Linked DNA regions of Homo sapiens: regions 1 and 2 are each linked to region 3. A link means that fine-mapping ties the variant in region 3 to the plasma level of a protein whose gene starts in the linked region. Region 3 holds a variant in brackets. A gene starts in each other region. All regions are shown on their reverse strands.

The links. PIP is the chance, under the fine-mapping model, that this variant and not a neighbour inherited with it causes the effect. The UK Biobank Pharma Proteomics Project read protein levels with antibody pairs (Olink). The fine-mapping took linkage between variants from a reference panel, not from the people measured, so its PIPs are less certain.
Region 1: VWA1 starts here. The variant in region 3 is fine-mapped to the plasma level of the VWA1 protein (UK Biobank, PIP above 0.99).
Region 2: it holds the start of PDZK1, and the variant in region 3 is fine-mapped to the plasma level of the PDZK1 protein (UK Biobank, PIP 0.99).

Annotation. Positions count from the first base shown.
Region 1 is chr1:1,433,395-1,437,499 of GRCh38, reverse strand. VWA1 (von Willebrand factor A domain containing 1) reads right to left here and starts at 1,810. Exons shown (of 3, transcript NM_022834.5): 1 at 1,679-1,810; 2 at 16-573. The coding sequence starts at 1,751. LOC107985729 reads right to left here. Exons shown (of 4, transcript XM_017003066.2): 2 at 3,429-3,537; 3 at 3,098-3,304; 4 at 1,951-2,964. The coding sequence ends at 2,350. It overlaps LINC01770 (long intergenic non-protein coding RNA 1770), which reads left to right and starts at 2,927. Exons shown (of 2, transcript NR_125996.1): 1 at 2,927-3,312. RefSeq lists silencers at 1,693-1,882, 1,641-2,010, 2,757-3,051 and enhancers at 2,837-2,896, 2,156-2,899.
Region 2 is chr1:145,705,135-145,709,245 of GRCh38, reverse strand. PDZK1 (PDZ domain containing 1) reads left to right here and starts at 1,878. Exons shown (of 9, transcript NM_001201325.2): 1 at 1,878-1,929. RefSeq lists an enhancer at 1,631-2,830.
Region 3 is chr3:186,618,759-186,622,869 of GRCh38, reverse strand. It overlaps AHSG (alpha 2-HS glycoprotein), which reads right to left. Exons shown (of 7, transcript NM_001622.4): 6 at 2,930-3,013; 7 at 1,552-2,284. The coding sequence ends at 1,940. Among named protein-coding and RNA genes, the nearest start is that of AHSG, 7.8 kb to the right of the region's middle. The variant G/A (reference allele first, on the strand shown) is at 2,095.

The DNA of each region.
Region 1 (4,105 bases), not on the chromosome of region 3:
CCTCCTCCCGCATACCGAGAATGGAGCCCCTCAGCTCTTGGACAATGATGTGCAGGTCATCCACGTCCACAAAGTGCAGGTGCTTCTCGGCAGGGGCTGAGGCAGCGGCTGACAGCTCCAGGAAGTTGCCTCGGCCGGTGCTGACAATGAACACGGTGACGCCCAGGTCCTTGAGCTCCTGCATGGGGGGGCCCACAGGGTCGCTGGAGCCGCCATCTGTCACCCACACCAGCACTTTGGGCACCCCTGGCCGGGCACCTGATGCTTCAGCAAACAGCTGTTCCTTGGCATAGACCAGCGCCAGGCCAGTGTGGGTGTCACCCATGCGCTGGGCAGAAGCACGCACCGCATCCTGGGCAGCCTCACCCGAGCTGTGCTGGCCGAAGGGGAACTCGGTGTATGGCCGACTGCCCACGTGCACCAGACTGGCACGCAGGGCCCCGGTGCCCAGGGGCAGTGGAGCCACCAGCTGCCCCACAAACTCCCGAACCCGGGAGAACTCGTAGTGAGAGACGCTGGCTGAGCTGTCCAGCAGGAACATCAGGTCCCCTCGGGGGGCTGATGCTGGTGGACCTGGGGGAAAGGAGGAATGCTCAGCCTCAGGTGTGGGCCCCCCAGACAGCCCCACAGCAAGGCAGGGTCCCCCAGGGCCCCAGCTTTCCTTAAGTGGATGCTTGCCTTCTCCCAAAGGTCCTAGGTTGGGGGAAAGAGGAACTCTAAGCAAGAGGCCTGTACTTTTGGGGGTTTCACTGCACACTGGCCATGGGATCTAGGGCTCTCTCTGGGCTTGTGTTATCCCATCTGTGAGAGGGCGACTCTCCGCTCCAAGCCCCCACACCTTCCCATTCCTCACAGACCCTGCAAGCAGGTGGAGCCAAGAGTCCTGGCCTAGGCCCCCAGGACAGGCCTGAGCCGTGGGGCTGTTCCCTCCAGGCATGGCTTTCAGAGGAGCAGCCTGAGGCTGGAGTTCAGCCACGCAGCTCAGCCTGCAGGTGAGGCACCCTGGGCATGCACACAGCAGCAGGGGAAGGTGTCGGAGGCACAGCAATGACCACGCCGGATGGCCTGGCTGGAGCCCAGACCCCGCTTACTAGATGGTGGCCCCTCCCCTGGCCTCCATCCTCCAGCCCACCTGGACTCACACAACAAGATATAACCCCCAGCAGCCTGAAAGCCGGAACAGCCCCTCGCAGGCTTCCCCCTTCCTCCGGGCACCTCCGGGGTGGAGGCTGATGCCCCCTACACCGCCCCTCCCCACCAAGCCAGGGCACCAGCGTGCCTCAATTCTAGTCCCGGCCTTGCGGTTTTCCCCAGTGCGGTGGGGCGACTCCAACTTCCCTACCATCCCTCCACTAAGGGCCCTCGCAAGGGTAGGGAAACTGAGGCAGGGGTGCCCCCTTGACAGACATCTCCCTCTTCCTGTCCAGGCCCGCGATCCCGCAGAGATGCGGGCCGGGACGGCCCCTATGCCCCGGCGCTCACGGACGGTGTCGCCTGGAGCACCTGGGCCGCCAGCCTCAGGTGAGCAGGACGCTCCGCCCGCGCCCCCGCCCGGCTCCCGCAGCCTCCCAGCCCGCCCGCCCGTCCGGAGCAGGGGACAGCGACGGCCTTGCGCGGGCAGCGGCGCAGAGCGGTCACCAGAAGCCCCAGCCCCGGCCCGGCCGCCCGCCGCACTCACCGCGCTCCGCGCCGCTCCGCGCCAGCGCCAGCCGCAAGCTCAGGGCCAGGCCGAGCGCCGTCCAGGGGAGCATCGCGCGCGAGGGACGGGGCGCGCTCGGCAACTCGCTCGCTCGCTCGCTCGCTCGGGGCTGCAGGGCGCGTCACCGCGCGGACCAGGCCGGCCCCGCCCCCGGGAGGCCCCTCCCCGAGCGGCCACACCCACGCCGAGGCCACGCCCACGCCCTCCGGCGCGAGCGGAGGGCCACGCGCACAGACCCCGGAGAGGCGCGCACGAGCGGACCCCGACACGCAGGGACACGCAGCACCAGCCGAGATACGACCGAGGCACGCACGCGCAGGCACGCACACACACACACTCCAGTCTCCCTCTCCCGGCCGAGGCTGTGCGGCCCACGCTCTCCACCCCTCTCCGACCCCCAGCCGCGGGAGCCGAGCAGGGAGGTACCAGGCTAGGCCCTCCCCATGCCCACCACTGCCGTGACTCTGGGTGCTGGGGTCCCAGCAGCCAGGCCCAAGAGAACCCCAGGGGCTGGCGGTGGCACCAAAAAAACACGTCCAGACCGTGGTTTCGCCTTGGCCTCCGCGCTGGAGGCGGATAGGTGTCTGGAGTAACAGGACATGTATCCCAGGGACTGACCAGCAGGGATGGGAAGGACCATGGGGTGGAACTTACAAGGACACAGTGGCTTGAAAGGGGACAGAAGACAGGAATTCGAGAGAGACTCGAAGCACCCACGCCACCTGGGCTTCTTGGAGGAAGAGGCATGGGAGTGGGAGATGGTTGGTTGAGGCCCTGTCCAGTGGGACCACACTGGGCCTGTTACCCATATACCCTACCCAGTGAGGGGCCCAGACTCCAGGACCCAGGACACACCCCCAGCAGGACTGGAGGGTCCCACTGGTGAGACAGGAGCTCTTGAGTCTTGGGGTCTTGGTGAGGCCCAGACGAGAGGTGGCTGGTTGCAGGGGGCGTCCTGAGGGACAGTGGCTCCCAGGGCAGATTTCCCCTGCTTGGGTGGGGCTGGGCCAGCAGTGTCCCCTGGACAGGAGAACCCTACCCCGGCCCTCCCTCGGAGTAGCCATGGCCCTCTTCCAGGGCCTCCTCAGCTCAGAGCTGGGAGGTGGGGGACGTGGGGGGGTGTCTGCCAGGATGTCTCCTCCTTCCCCACCCTCTCCTGGAGGATGCGCCGCGGGAGAACGGATGGGGCTCCACAGGCTTCCTTCCTCCCTTTCAGGCAGGTGAGACACCGCGGGGCCGTGCGGACGGCCAGCACTCGACTTTGCCTAAAAAAGGAAGCAGCAGGCTGAGGCTGAGGAGCTGGCGGCAGGAACAAGGGAGAGCTGTGTCCCCGCCGGCGCCCCCCACCCCCCCTGCCGGGGATCTTGGCAGTGGAGGTGCTGGCTGCGCTCCACAGACCTCAGACCTCGGCTGGGACCAGAAATGCCTGGTGCTTCCGCCTGGGCCCGGTGGGGGGACTTTGGGTCCCCAGAGTGCAAGCTGTACCACTTCGAGGGGCCTCGCCAGGCCCCCCAGCCCCCAGTACACAGGGGCTGCCGTGGAGATGACGCTGAAGGCCGCAGCCGCTGGAGGACCTGGGGTCTGACCGGAAGCTGGCTGCAGACCCTGCGGAGGCACGTCCAGGTAGTCAGGCAGGGAGCTGGGCCGAGGGTCCCCCACCCTGGGGAGGCTCACAGCCAGTGGCCCGCTTGTCCCCCACCCTCGCCCAGCAGGCGGGCCACAGTCACACCTCAGCCAGCCTTGCAGGGCTGACGGGGAAGTTTCCCTCACTTCTGGAAAAAGTGAGCGGGTCTTCTTGGCTGTGACTCAGGCCCTCAAGGAAGCGGCCGCCCTCCTCCCTTCAGCTCGCCATCAGCGGGAGAAGGCACAGGAGGCCTGGCCTCCACCCAGCCTGGGCCGAGCTCAGCCACCTGCCTTGCTCCCGGCTCTGCCTGGAGTCCCTCCAGCTAGGAGACCCTCCCCATCAGCTCTCCCCGTGCCCCTCAGTCTTCAGGACTCATTCTTGTGTCCTGCCCTCCCCCCGCTGTCTCCACCCCGGAGGAGGGACGTGGACAGAGGGTCCCAGAGAGCATGGGGTCAGCCAGAGGTGCAGTGTCAGGGCCCGGGCCGGACTTGAGGCAGACACCGGAGGAAGCACAAATATAACAGCCGGAACCCTCCACTCTCCAGGGAGAAGGGCCCGGGGTAAGAGGCAGAGGCAAGGACGGGTCAGGCCAGATCACAGTGGGTGCTGGCCCCGAGCCCTCTGCCTCCTGCAGGCACAGCCCCTGTCTGATCCTGGTGGCCTGGGGCCCCATGGGGTGGGGAGCAGCCTGGTTTGGCTGCGGCCACCCCGCCCCCACGGTCTGGGCCTGGGCTGTGGGAGTCCCTGTGCCTCACTTCCCGGAGCCAGCCTGCCCTGCCGGT
Region 2 (4,111 bases), not on the chromosome of region 3:
CTGGCCAACATGGTGAAACCCTGTCTCTACTGAAAATACAAAAAATTAGCCAGGCATGGTGGCGGGCACTTGTAATCCCAGCCACTCGGGAGGCTGAGGCAGGAGAATCACTTGAACTCAGGAAGCGGATGTTGCAGTGAGCTGAGATTGCACCACTGCATTTCAGCCTGGGCTGTAACAGAGTGAGACTCCATCTCAAACAACAACAACAACAACAGCAATTTTTAAAAATTTCTAAAAACCATACAATAACAACTATTTATACATGATGAAGGTGAGACCCAGAGAGTTAAAAATGAATTACTCTGGATCAAACACCTGGGAAATGGGAAATGGTGGCGTCAGAATTGAACTCAGGTGTTCTTTCTTTCTTTTTTGTTTTGTTGTTTTTTTTTTGGAGACAGGGTCTCGCTCTGTCATTGAGGCTGGAGTGCAGTGGCATGATCACGGCTCACTGCAACCTCTGCCTCTCAATCAAGTGATCCTCCCACCTCAGCCTCCAGAGTAGCTGGGACTACAGGCATGCACCACCATGCCTGGCTTTTTGTACCTTTTGTAGAGACAAGGTTTTGCCATGTGGCCCAGGCTGGTTTCGAACTCTTGAGCTCAGGCAATCTGCCCGCTTTGGCCTCACAAATTGCTGGGATTGCGATGAACTCAGGTGTTCTGATCCTAAATCCAGATTTTCCCATTCTACCTTCTGCTTTGAAAGATATAGAGGAGGCCAGGAGGGCTTAGCCCCGAGGTGGAGGAAGATAAGCTGGTATGAGGAAGCTGCTCAATGTCATTTTAAACCGTTTATCCATGGGCTCAGGTCATGTCTTTGTTGGGGGCCAAGCCAAGGCCCAGCAAAGACAAATGGCTCTTCCAGTGTGGGTGGAAGAGGGGTGAGGTCACCCAGTCCTCGGCCTGTGGTTTGCTTTGCCTCAGTGCCGGGAGCAATCTCTTGCCCTGATTTGCATTGTGGGCTGAGGATTCAGGTCAGTGAGAAGGCCAGTGATAGAATTGTCTGTGTGGGTGCTGCTGATAGGGATCAGCTGCTGATCATGGCTAGGGCTAGCGGCTGAGCACACGGGCACCAGCCTACTGCTCGGGCAGCAAGGCAGCAGGATGGAGGGGTTTGTAAAAATGCCTTCCACCTACCCTGCTGGGCTTGCCCGAGAGGCTCTGAGTGTGTGAAGGGGAAGACAATTATCGCTAGGCTGGAGAATAGAAAGAGCACCATCAGGTGAGAAAGAGAAGAAAAAAAGAGAGGGGAGAGAGTGGATAAGAAGAAGGAAGCCTGGGACACAAGAACAAGGGCTTTGCTTGCTCTAGGGCTTTGCTTGCTAAACTCCTAGGGAGCACACAAGTGAGAATCCAGGGCAGAGGGAAGCAGGATGGGTGCCCTGAGTGCTTGGCCCCATTTCCTGGGGCTTACTGGCCTCGTGGGTGGGAGTTTTATAGGCTACTGCTCCTTGGGGAGGCCTCAGTGATTGAGGATACTCCTGTATGAGCCTCGGCCCTGACCCCAGGATGGGGGACTGGAGGATCCTAACAGGATTGGGGGTTGGTTGGGTGTAACCAAGGTATCTGCCAAAGGGAGAGTACCAAGGAAAGCGGAGGCACCTCCTCCCTGGCTGTCCTTCACCCCCTCTCCCCTCCTTGTTCTCTGGGAGTGGCTGGCGAGCAGCGGCCTCCCCGCAGGGCCAGGCAGGTGGGCCAGAGCTTTTGGTTTGCTGAGGTTTGTCAGATTTTCCAGCTCAGGGCCCAGCCAGCTGGCAGGAAGCAGGACAGAGGTCACTTGAATTCAGACCACATGTCCCTGTTAAATACATTAGCTTTTAAATCAATCTTTGTTCAAAGTCCAGTGAGTTGCAAGCTTAATGCTCACCTGCAGAGACAGAATTCCTGAGTGAACGAACAGAGCAGCTCCTCTTCCATCTCCAGGTAAGAACTGCTCGTGTCCTCCTTGAGGGTGCTGGCCACCGGGGCCTGAACTACCTTCTTTCTTTTCCTTTTCCCTTTTTCTTTTTCCAAGCCAGTAGCTGGCTGTCTAGGGCAGAGAAGAGTCCCATGGGGAGGCAGCCAGGCCCCTTTGGCGGTGGTTGGGGGTGAGAGATGATCCACGCTCTGAGATTCTTTCTGCTGGAGATGCCCCTCACCTTTGTAGGCTAGGGTCTGCTTCACAAAGAAATTGGTAAACCGACCTCAGAAAAAGCCTTCCCGGGGTTGTGTGGGGGTTTGATGTGCAGCCAAAGGGAGTGAGACAACTGACTTCACAGGTAACCAGGCGGATATGCCCGGGACCTTCCTACTGATACAGGGGCCTTGGGTAGCAGAGAAGACTCTTCTGGAAGCAGCCTTTAAAGGATGCAGCCTAACTTAGCTTGCCCACTAGATAATAAAAGCAGGCATCTTTCCTCTCTGTATCACACTGCAGCACTAAGACATGAGAAAAACCAGTGGATTTCCAGGCTGGCTGAATTTTAAAACATACATTCCCCAGGCTCTCACCTTTGGCATTTCTAAGTCTCCAGGCCTTGTGTGAATTGAAAGATCTTTATTTGAAAACTCTCCCAGAATCATTCTGATCAGTGCAGGTAGGTTTGGGAACCACTAGTAGTTTATTTCTTAAGCAGAAGACTCATGAGACTTAAGTATGACACTTACCTAAGGGTTCACTCGCTATGAAGACTCCTGGTCTGGGTTGGGTCCAGCTATGAAGATTTGGGCGTTGGCTCTGAGAAACACATTCTTCTTTATTTACTAAAATCTCTGCAATGTGTCACCAGGGCAGCTTTCAGTCTTGTATCTAGAAGGCAAGAGGGGGTAGCAGGGACTGCCTCAGGCCATGATTGTCCAGTCATCTGAAGTCTGCAGCAAATTACTCAGGGTCTTTGAATTTCTGTGTTATGATAGTAACTTGTGCTTATCTTTGACTTTTGTATGTTCTCTGCACCATAGGGTGTGAAGTTGCTGGTAATGATGTCTTATATTCATAGACCACTGGCTAGGCAGCTACTTCTCCCCCAGGGGAAAGAACATAGGACTGGAATACAAATCATCAGAGTTTTGATTCAGTTGCTAGTGACAGGCCATTAGACAAACTACTTAGCCAACTGGAGCCTCAATTTCATTATTGATCAAGTGAAGGTCTGTCATCTTTTCCCCAAGAGTGTACTGAAAATAAAATTATAAGTACAAATGTGTGGTCCTGCATGGTGGCTCATGCCTGTAATCCCAGCACTTTGGGATGCCCAAGCGGGAGGATCACTTGAGGCCAGGAGTTCGAGACCAGCCTGGGCAATGAAGTGAGACCCCCGTCTCTACAAAAAATAATAATAAATTAATCCTGCATGGTGGCATGTGTCTGTGGTGTCAGCTACTTGGGAGGCTGAAATGGAAGGGTTGCTTGAGCCCAGGGGGTCGAGGCTACAGTGAGCCGTGATTGCATCACTGCACTCCAGCCTGGGTGACAGACTGAGATCCTGTCTAAAAAACAAAAAACCATGAATATGTTAAAAACACGATGTAAGATGCCTAGATTTCAAATGTGTATATCGAAAGTCTCTGTAGAATAGTAAGAAGAAACAAATTGCAGTCACTTGGGAAACCTTGTCCTAGTCTTTTAATCTCATTGAGCCTCTGTTTGCTCACTTACAAATAAGAAGTTGAGACCAGATCATCATTAATGTCTTTTTCAGTTGGCCAAGTATAAGGTAGATCCTGGAGCCTTGAAGGGTAGCTCCTTGTCATTGGGGTATGAATTAAAATGTCACCTCCCAGGAAGGACTTTCTAAATCAGCCTCCCACCTCCATGCCACCAGTATCTCTATCATTCACAGCGTGTACCATCAGAAATCATCTCATTTGGGCTGGGTGCAGTGGCTCACATCTGTAATCCCAGCACTTTGGGAGGCTGAGGCAGGTGGATCACCTGAGGTCAGGAGTTCAAGACCAGCTTGGCCAACATGGTGAAACCCCATCTCTACTAAAAATACAAAAATTAGCCGGGCGTGGTACTGCCTGTCTGTAGTATTAGCTACTTGGGAGGCTGAGGCAGGAGAATTGCTTGAACCTGGGAGGTGGAGGTTGCAGTGAGCCAAGATTGTGCCATTGCACCCTAGCC
Region 3 (4,111 bases):
TGCCCCCCCCCCACACACACACACACATCTATCCAGTTCACAAAGCCACAAATCCAGGAATCATCATCCTTCACGTCTTTCTCACTCCCATATCAAATTCATCAGCAGGTCTTGGGAGTTCTACCTCCAAATTATAACCTCTTTTTATCATGTCCACTGCCCACCACCTTAGACCAACTCATGTTAATCTTTTCTCTAGAAAGCTCTAGTGACTTTCTATCCTGTGGCTACTCTTGCCCAGCTACAGCCCACTCTCCAGTCTCCCTACAGCAACAACACCAGTAAACTCTTGACAACCAGGATGCCCCTAGAGCAACTGCATCTGCCAGTGGTCACCATGACCTCAGAGTCAGTCGTCCTTACTGCTCTTTCTACAGCATTTAGCACAGCTGCCCATAGCTTCTTCTCTGGCTTCCGTGACACCTAGTGGTTTTCTTACCTTTCTGGCCTTTCCTTTTGGTTACTGGAATATTGGCAAAACCTCTAGGCACAAGTGATAAGGTGAGTGTCAACACTTGATTCATTCTCCTTGGTTTAAAGTGAAGTCACTCAACTGGGTGTCAGTCCTGCCCTCTAAAATTCCATCTGAAAGGGCCCATCACTGAGGTAGATCGGAAAAACTTAATGCTGATGGACAAAAATTGAAATTGCCCAGGGACCATGCTAAAATGGGGAGGGTTTATTCACATATGCTATCTGAGCACTTGGACGGTGTCTACAAATGTCCACGGGATTCACCTGTCCAGGCATCCTTTATCTAATGATACTACAAGTCACAGCTTTAACTTGGGTCCTTAAAATAGATTGGCTAGGAAGACCAATCTTGTGTTATAAAATGAAGTGTATACAGTACACTCAACGTATATCTTAAACATAATTAACAACAGATATAAAGTGAGGATCTTGTTTTAATTACCAATCCCTCCTTACCTCGGTACTGGAGAAAATCAATGGATAGTTTATTCTGTACAAAGTTCAGGAGCTTGGCCCACCTTTAGCAATATTTTCTCTCTCTTATAAAATGAGAAGAATTATTTTCTCATAAAGAAATGGTCATATCTTGGCCAGGTGCGGTGGCTCACGCCTGTAATCCCAGCACTTTGGGAGGCCGAGGTGGGTGGATCATGAGTTGAGGAGATCAAGACCATCCTGGCCAACATGGTGAAACCCTGTCTCCACTAAAATAAAAAAAATTAGCTGGGTGTGGTGGCACGCACCTGTAGTCCCAGCTACTCAGGGGGCTGAGGCAGGGGAATCATTTGAATTTGGGAGGTGGAGCTTGCAGTGAGCCAAGATCATGCCACTGCGCTCCAGCCTGGGTGACAGAGTAAGACTCCGTCTCAGAAAAAAAAAAAAAAAGAAATGGTCACATCTTATGGGTTGTGGAAAGATCCTAGTCTCACTTTTTCCTGTATCTGGCAATACAGCAGGTTTTTGTTCTCTTTTGGTTCTCTTTTCACTTTGATTTTGATTAGGGACACTGTGTTTGTTGGGGTAAAAGGCTATGCATGTGAGGGGAGCTGGGATGAAGTCGCAATAAGCATGACCACATTCAGCTTAGAACCTTCTTTATTAAGGAAGGTCTTTCAGGCACTTTCATTAACAGGCACATATAAGCTTAGCAAGAGCACCTTTCAAAGTCACAGTTCCAATGGTTTTTGTAAGGTCAACCAGAGGCAGAGAACACAATCATGGTGGCTTACCGTCAAAATCATGACAAGTTGTCAACCTAATGCCTTCTGTCAAACATAACCACCACCCACTCTGCTTCTGTCCTGTGAGGAATGACGGGAAGTAGGGAGTCAAGACTTGATATTAATGTAGATCGCATGTGACACTTGCGTGGCCAGCAGACAAGGCCCCCCACCCATGCCCAGGCTTGGACAAAATGGTGGCTATGTTTTCTGTGCCAAACCTCCTCATCTCTGCCATGTCTAGCCTAGACCTTGAAGTGTCTGATCCTCCCCGGACATGGAGGAACCACTGGCCCAGCAGCAGCACCAACACTAGGCTGCACCACTGTGCGTGTTTTCCGGGGGTGCGACACTTCTCCTGAGGGTGACCCCAATGAGACCACACCCATGAAGGTGTGGC[G/A]CAGGTCGTAGTGCGCCCGGTGCAACTGGTGTCCTGGAGGAGCTGCCAGTAACACATGGGAGTCTGGGGGTGAGCCAGCTGGAGGGAGTCCAGGTGCGCCAAGTGGAGGGGACGGAGGTGCATCTGGGTCCACCACGGGTGTGGGGACTGCTTCATTGGCACCTTCTGGTTGGGGCTGTGAGCTCACGGGCTGGAAAAAGGACCATTTCCTTCAGTTAGTTTGCTTCCTCCTCCCAGGCAAGACAACCCACAGGCCCAGGTGGCACTGGCACCCAATTTCCTCACATTATACATTTTTATTTGCAAAGAGTCTAGCAAGAAAGGACCTACCCAAGTACAAGGGATTGTCATCAAGGTTACAAGGAGGGGTGACTGGCCTATGTTGGCCCCGGCCTCACTAGGATTGTCTTTGTGATGGTGGACTTACACGCATATGTCCAATGAGTAAAAGCACCCCACCTATGGCTCACCCTTGCCCAGCAGTGCCACCCTCTTTGTCATCTGAAGCTGCAGCCACTGGGAGCTAACAGGTAGATCTGGCCACCTGGTCTCTGCAACTCAGAAAACCACTCCCACCTCCCACAAATAAAAAGGTGGCTTTGTCAACTACACAGTAAGATGGTTCTTCCCTGTAGTCACTAGTTCGTGGGAGGGAAAGGCATAGCTAAAATATCCTTCCATTTGTTGATGATTCCGCATACCCCAGTGTTATTTCATACTGTGAGATTCAGAAGCACAGGAGAGCAAATGTCCTGTCATCACTACTGCACTGCATAAATGTGAAGGGGTCATTGTATTCTGAAGGTGTAGGCAAGAATATTCACGGAGCTGTTACCTGTGTTTGGAACACCATGCAGGTCACTGCAACCTCTGCCCCACCAAGCTTCTCACTGAGTGTTGCCTTACAAAAGCCATATTGCTGCCCACAGAGAAAGAGGATTTATTTTAACTAATTTCAAAAATGGATCCCCCCCAATTTCATTGACGCGCCAACCTTAAATTAGTTTGAAAAACCATTTTTCTTAAAGTTATAGTTTCTGCTTGTGGGAGGTATATGATTCTATATATAACATGGAAATACAGAAATACTTTGAGAGTGAGAGAGATTACCCATAATCCCTTTCTGGTGGTGGCCTAGAAAGAAGGACTGTTAACATTGATGCATTTCTTTCTTATTTTAAAATACTATTAAATATGATTTAAAAATTGAGATCATTGTGACTATACGATGTTGTATCCTGTGTGTTTTCACTTGCCATAATAGCATTTTCTCATATCATTCATTATTCCTTGAAAACACAATTTTTAGTGTCTGCACAATTTTCTATTTACTGATGTGCATGGATTATTCAATGACACCTTCCTGTTGGACATACAGATCTCTCTTTTTTGGTCTCTTTATATCCATAATAAATCATTTTTATAGATATATTCTGTCAAATGTCACTGATGAATTCTTTTTCTTTTTCTTTTTTTCTTGAGACAGAGTCTCGTTCTGTTGCCCAGGCTGGAGTGCAGTGGCACGATCTTAGTTTACTGCAACATCTGCCTCCTGGGTTCACACCATTCTCCTGCCTCAGCCTCCCGAGTAGCTGGGACTACAGGCGCTCACCACCAAGCCTGGCTAATTTTTTTGTATTTTTAGTAGAGACGGGGTTTCACCATGTTAGCCAGGATGGTCTCGATCTCCTGACCTCCCGATCCACCCGTCTTGGCCTCCCAAAGTGCTGGAATTACAGGCATGAGCCATCATGCCTGGCCACTGATGACTTCTTTAGACTAAAATCCTAGAAGTGTACATTATTGGCTCAAGGACTTGAAAGCTTTTGTATCAGAGTTATATGTCTAGAAAATGTGCACTTCACATTCCCAGTGGGTGGGCGTGACTTGGCTTCATTAGCAAATAGCCTCTCTCTTTCTCCTAACTTCATGTGCTTCCAGTGGGTGAGATGATTTGATGACAGCTCTTAAAGGGATGAGGTGACACCCTAAAAGAAGGCTTGCCGTGATCCACAGG